Regions from separate parts of the Homo sapiens genome. Here region 2 is linked to region 1. A link means that fine-mapping ties the variant in region 1 to the expression of a gene that starts in the linked region. Tissue or cell type: whole blood. Region 1 holds a variant in brackets; the other region holds the start of a gene. All regions are shown on one strand. Distances are between the middles of the regions.

Region 1 (2,627 bases):
GAACTCCTGACCTCAAGTGATCCACCCACCTCAGCCTCCCAAAGTGCTGGGATTACAGGTGTGAGCCACCATGCCCGGCCAAGGATTTGAATTTTTTGCTTAAAAACTAAGACACACACTATCCTAGGCCTGCACAGGGTCAGGGTCATCCATGTCACCATCTTCGACCTCCACATCTTGTCCCACTGGAAGGTCTTCAGGGACAATAATACATTTAGAGCTGTCATCTCCTATGACGACAGTGCCTTCTTTTGGATACCTCCAAAAAGTCTTGAAGGACCTGCCTGAGGCCGTTTTACAGTTAAAAAAAATTTTTTTTTTTTTTTGATACAGAGTCTCACTCTGTTGCCCAGGCTGGAGGGCAGTGGCACCATCTCAGCTCACTGCAACCTCCACCTCCCAGGTTAAGCGATTCTCACGCCTCAGCCTCCCAAGTAGCTGGGATTACAGGCTGGCGCCACCATGCCTAGCTAATTTTTGTATTTTTAGTAGAGACGGGGTTTCACCATGTTTCCCAAGCTGGTCTGGAACTCCTGACCTCAGGGGATCTGCCTGCCTCAGCCTACCAAAGTGCTGGGATTATAGGTGTGAGCCAATGCTGTGGCTGGCCTACAGTTGACTTTTTAAATAAGTAGGAGTATATTCTAAAGTAATGATAAAAAGTATAGTAAATAATCTAATAACATATTTATTATCATTATCAAATATTAGGTACTATACATAATTGTATGTGATCTTTTTTTTTTTTTTTTTGAGATGGAGTTTCACTCTTGTCACCCAGGCTGGATGGAGTGCAATGGCACAATCTCGGCTCACCACAACCTCCACCTCCCAGTTTCAAGCGATTCTCCTGCCTCAGCCTCCCAAGTAGCTGGGATTACAGGTGCGCTGTACCTGTAGCCAAGCCTGGCTATTGTATTTTTAGTAGAGACGGAGTTTCTCCATGTTCCCCAGGCTGGTCTGGAATTCCTGACCTCAGGTGATCCGCCCGCCTCAGCCTCCCAGAGTGCTGGGATGACAGGTGGGAGCTGTCGTGCTCTACTTTTATTTCTGAGACAGGTTCTCTCTCCGTCCGCTGGGCTGGAGTGTAGATGCATGATCACAGCTCACTGCAGCCTCAACCTCCCAGGCTCAGGTGACACTTCCATCTCAGCCTCCGAAGTAGCTGGGCATGTACCACCACACACAGCTAATTTTTAAATTTTTTTGTAGAGACGGGATCTCACTATGTTGCCCAGGCTGGAGTGCAATGTCGTGATCTTGGCTCACTGCAACCTCCACCTCCCGGGTTCAAGTGATTCTCCTGCCTCAGCCTTCCAAGTAGCTGG[G/T]ATTACGGGTGCTCGCCACCACGCCTGGCTAATTTTTTGTATTTTGAGTAGAGACAGAGTTTCACTATGTTGGCCAGGCTGGTCTCGAACGCCTGACCTCAGGTCATCCGCCCACCTCGGCCTCCCAAAGTACTGGGATTACAGGCGTGAACCCCCGCGCCTGGCCTGCTTGTGGGGGTTTTCACGGATGCTCTTGATCAGGCTGAAGAAACTCCTTTTATTCCTAGTTTGTTGAATGTTTTTATCATGAAAGCGTGTTGGAGGTTGTCAAATGTTTTGTGTCTATTCAGTGATCACACGGTTTTTGTCCTTTTCTCTACTGATCTGGTATGCAGGCATCCCCATCACACACTAGGCTTGGTGACTGCACTTGAGGGACTCACAGGACTTAGCCTACCATCATACTAGTGGCTGGGATTTACTACGGTGAAAAGATGCGACGCAGAATTAGTAACAGGAAGATGCATTTGGGGTGAGGGCCGGAGGAAACCAGGTACAAGCCCCCAGAGTCCCCTCCCCTGGGGTCCCCTCCCGCAGAATGTGCTGAATCCTCCAGCCTCGAGCTGTGACATGTGCAAAGTGTTCTCTACCAGGGAAGCCTGCCTGAGCCCAGGAGTCCAGGGTTTTCACTGGGGGTTGCTCATGTAGGTACGTTGTGCCTGCGTGACTGAATATGGTCACCGAAATGCCAGGCTCAGAAGAAAAGCAAGTGTTCAGCAAATATCACATGATTTGTATAGAAAAGAGTGAGCAGTTGTTATTTGGGGATAGTATTGTATCCACATAGGAGCTCTTTACCAGTCAAGTTCCCAGATGCCAGCTGGGCGTGGTGGCTCATGCCTGTAATCCCAGCACTTTAGGAGTCCGAGGCGGGTGGATCACTTGAGGTCGGGAGTTCGTGACCAGCCTAGCCAACATAGCGAAACCCCGTCTCCACTAAAAATACAAAAATTAGCTGAGCGTGGTGGTGCGCACTTCTAATCCCAGCTACCTGGGATCACTCACAGTGATCTTGCAGTGAGCCAAGATCACACCACTGCACTCCAGCCTGGGCGACAGAGTGAGACTCCGTCTCAAAAAAAAAAAAAAAAAAAAAAAAGTTCCCAGATGCCAGCCAAGGGTGAACCTTGCACACAGGCTGTTCTTAGGGCAGCAGTCTCAGGCCTGCTGTGTTACATTAATTGGTTTTGCATGTTGATGCATTCCTGGGATAAATCTTACTTGGTCATGGTATATAATCCTTTTTTATGTTGCTGGATTCTGTTTGCTGGTATTCTACGTTCCTAAGAAATACTGGTC
Region 2 (2,627 bases), 32 kb after region 1:
CAGCCTTGTTCCTTCCACACGTCCCGCCAGTAGCACTTGGGAAAGGAACAAGAGAAACATGATATAATCACACGAGAAAATCTAGATCAAGCCCTGGAAATCATATTGGCCCTTGGAAAGCAGAAATATGCAAATAAAAATAAGCCATTTCGTTGGAATTGGAGTTTGCACATGATTATCTGACTATGGGAGTTCAGCTTCCAGTACAAGGAATAAAGGAACAACAGGCAGGGTTTAGAGCGAGGGTTTCAACTACGTCAGACCCGTTATGTGCAGGCTCCATGGGTTAGCAGCAGCCTTTTGGAACGGGGTGGAAGAGAATGGAACGGAATTTAATCCGAACAGATCCAGCTGCGTCATGTGAGCTTAAACAAGCGTCTCCCTTTAAACTTGTGCTTCAGTCATCCAGACCCACAGGCACAGAGTACACGCGTAAAAGGCATTTCTCAGTGTCGGCTGTGGGTCAACAAAGTTCGAAAGCCGTCACCGGAGATCTATAGGGTCAGAAGCGGGAGCGGGGTGCGTCCCGACCCGCAAAAGTGCAAGGTCACTGGGACCGCCCGAGCTGCAACCGTGGGACGGGGCTGATGCTGCGGGTCCAGGAAGGCAGCGCTGGGCGGGGCAGACACCGCCAGGAAACGGCGGACGAGTGCGGGGATCCTTGATGTGGGGGTGTCGGGCTTAGGCCAGGGGACGGGGGGGTGGGGATGGAGGGGCGAGGAGCAAGGAGGGAATCGCGGGAGACCCCACAGGAGGCGGCCTGAGCGCCGGGACGCAGACCCCTCCCCAGCACCCGCAACCCTCGGGACCCCCGGGAGAGCCGGGCTGCGGGCGCGTCCACGCCGGGGACGCGGGACATTCCCCGCCCGCAGGGGCCTGTCCTCACCGACGGCAGCGGGGCCCTCCCTCTCCCGCGACAGCGCCGCGGCGGATCCTTCAGCCTCTGCCGCTGCAGCAGCGAGCGTCGACCCCGCGACCCAGGCCGCCGCCGCCACCCCGACCCGGGCACCAGCTCCCAGCCCCGACCTGCCCCTCGGGAGCGAGCCCCGTGACCGCGCGCGCGACCCCGCCGGGGAGCCGGCCTTGCGGAACGCTCAGGCGCGCTACTTCAGAGCATGCGCAGCAAGACCGCGCGGCCCGTTCCTTAGGTAAACCGCTGCTCCGGGTCTTCCCTGCGCGGCGCCGAGCCGCAGGCCTGGCCTGTCAGCGCATGGGGGCGGGGACGTAACTCACGGAAAAGGCGGGGCCATCCCGAGATTGGACGGCGGCGTCCAGGGGCGGAGCTAGGATGGGGGAGCTGAACAGGACGCTCTTGGCGTAAAGGGGCTGGGGTAGGGGGCGCTTAATTGAGACCCCAGGACGGTCCCCAGTATCTGAGGCTGCCCGCAGGAAACGGAGCGTTTGCTGAGATGCACTCTTGGGCCTGTCAGTTTCCTGACCCCGTGGGAAGGCGATTCTCATGCATCTCATTGACGCCCCCAGTGACCCTACCCCAGAGCGGAACCAGTGTGAGATTCAAATAAACAGCGATAGCAACGGATTATAACCTTGACTACGATATGAGTCCAAACTGAAGGAAATAAGTCAACGGGGGAGAAGGGACAGTTGTTTCTTACATCAGAAAGCCAACAACGACAAAAAAATACCTGGGCCGGGCGCGGTGGCTCACGCCTGTAATCCCAGCACTTTGGGAGGCCGAGGCGGGTGGATCACCTGAGGTCAGGAGTTCGAGAACAGCGTGGCCAACATGGTGAAACCCCGTTTCTACTAAAAATACGAACATTAGTCGGGCGTGGTACTGGGCGCCTGTAATCCCAGCTACTCGGGAGGCTGAGGCAGGAGAATAACTTGAACCCGGGAGGCGGAGGTTGCAGTGAGCCGAGACGGCGCCACTGCACTCCAGCCTGGGCGACAGAGTGAGACTGTGTCTAAAAAAAAAAAAGCAGAAATATTACATAGTATTACAAAGTCTGCATGACGTGTGATGTAACACATTGAATGTAGAAGCAGGTATGAGAGCCAGTAGTCTTCTTTTAAGCCCGCAACAAAGATATTTGCAAAAATGTATAACTATGTCACTCGTCTCACTAAATTTCTTTGGGAAAATATTGTACTTTTTCATAAAACTATGTTAACACAATCAGCTTACTATTTTTTGGTAAGATCTTTATTGAAATATAATTCACATACCATGCATTTCTCCCATTTAAAGTGTACAATTAAATGATATGTAGTATAGTCAGAGAGTTGTGCAAACAGCACCATAGTCAGTTTTAAAACCTTTCATCACTCCAAGAAGAAACCTTTAGCCACCACCCTCCAATTTGCTAATCACCCCAGCCCTAAGTAATATGATCTATTTTCTGTCTTTATAGATTTGCGTATTCTGCATATTTCATATAAATGAAATCATGCAACAAATATGTGGTCTCTTGTGACTGACTTCTTTCGCCTAGCCTTAGCATAGCACTTTCAAAGTTCATCCATGTTGGCCGGGTACAGTGACTCTTGCTTGTAATCCCAGCACTTTGGGAGGCTGAGACAGGAGCATCGTTTGAGCCCAGGAGTTTGAGATCAGCCTAGGCAACATAGTGAGACTCTTTCTCTACAGAAAAAAAGAAAAGAGG

Evidence for each region. PIP is the estimated chance that this variant, and not a neighbour inherited with it, causes the effect.
Region 2: FLYWCH1 starts here. The variant in region 1 is fine-mapped to the expression of FLYWCH1 in whole blood (TOPMed, PIP above 0.99). The same link has a PIP of 0.9 or more in blood mononuclear cells, breast, cerebellar hemisphere, cerebellum, esophagus mucosa and fibroblasts.

The regions. Positions count from the first base shown.
Region 1 is chr16:2,942,521-2,945,147 of GRCh38, reverse strand. The region is part of intron 9 of FLYWCH1 (FLYWCH-type zinc finger 1); the gene reads right to left. FLYWCH1-AS1 (FLYWCH1 antisense RNA 1) reads left to right here. Exons shown (of 4, transcript XR_007064947.1): 3 at 1,664-1,821. Among named protein-coding and RNA genes, the nearest start is that of FLYWCH1-AS1, 12 kb to the left of the region's middle. The variant G/T (reference allele first, on the strand shown) is at 1,329.
Region 2 is chr16:2,910,414-2,913,040 of GRCh38, reverse strand. It overlaps FLYWCH1 (FLYWCH-type zinc finger 1), which reads right to left and starts at 1,110. Exons shown (of 10, transcript NM_001308068.2): 1 at 887-1,110. RefSeq lists silencers at 477-666, 640-739, 770-919, 940-1,249, 1,300-1,359.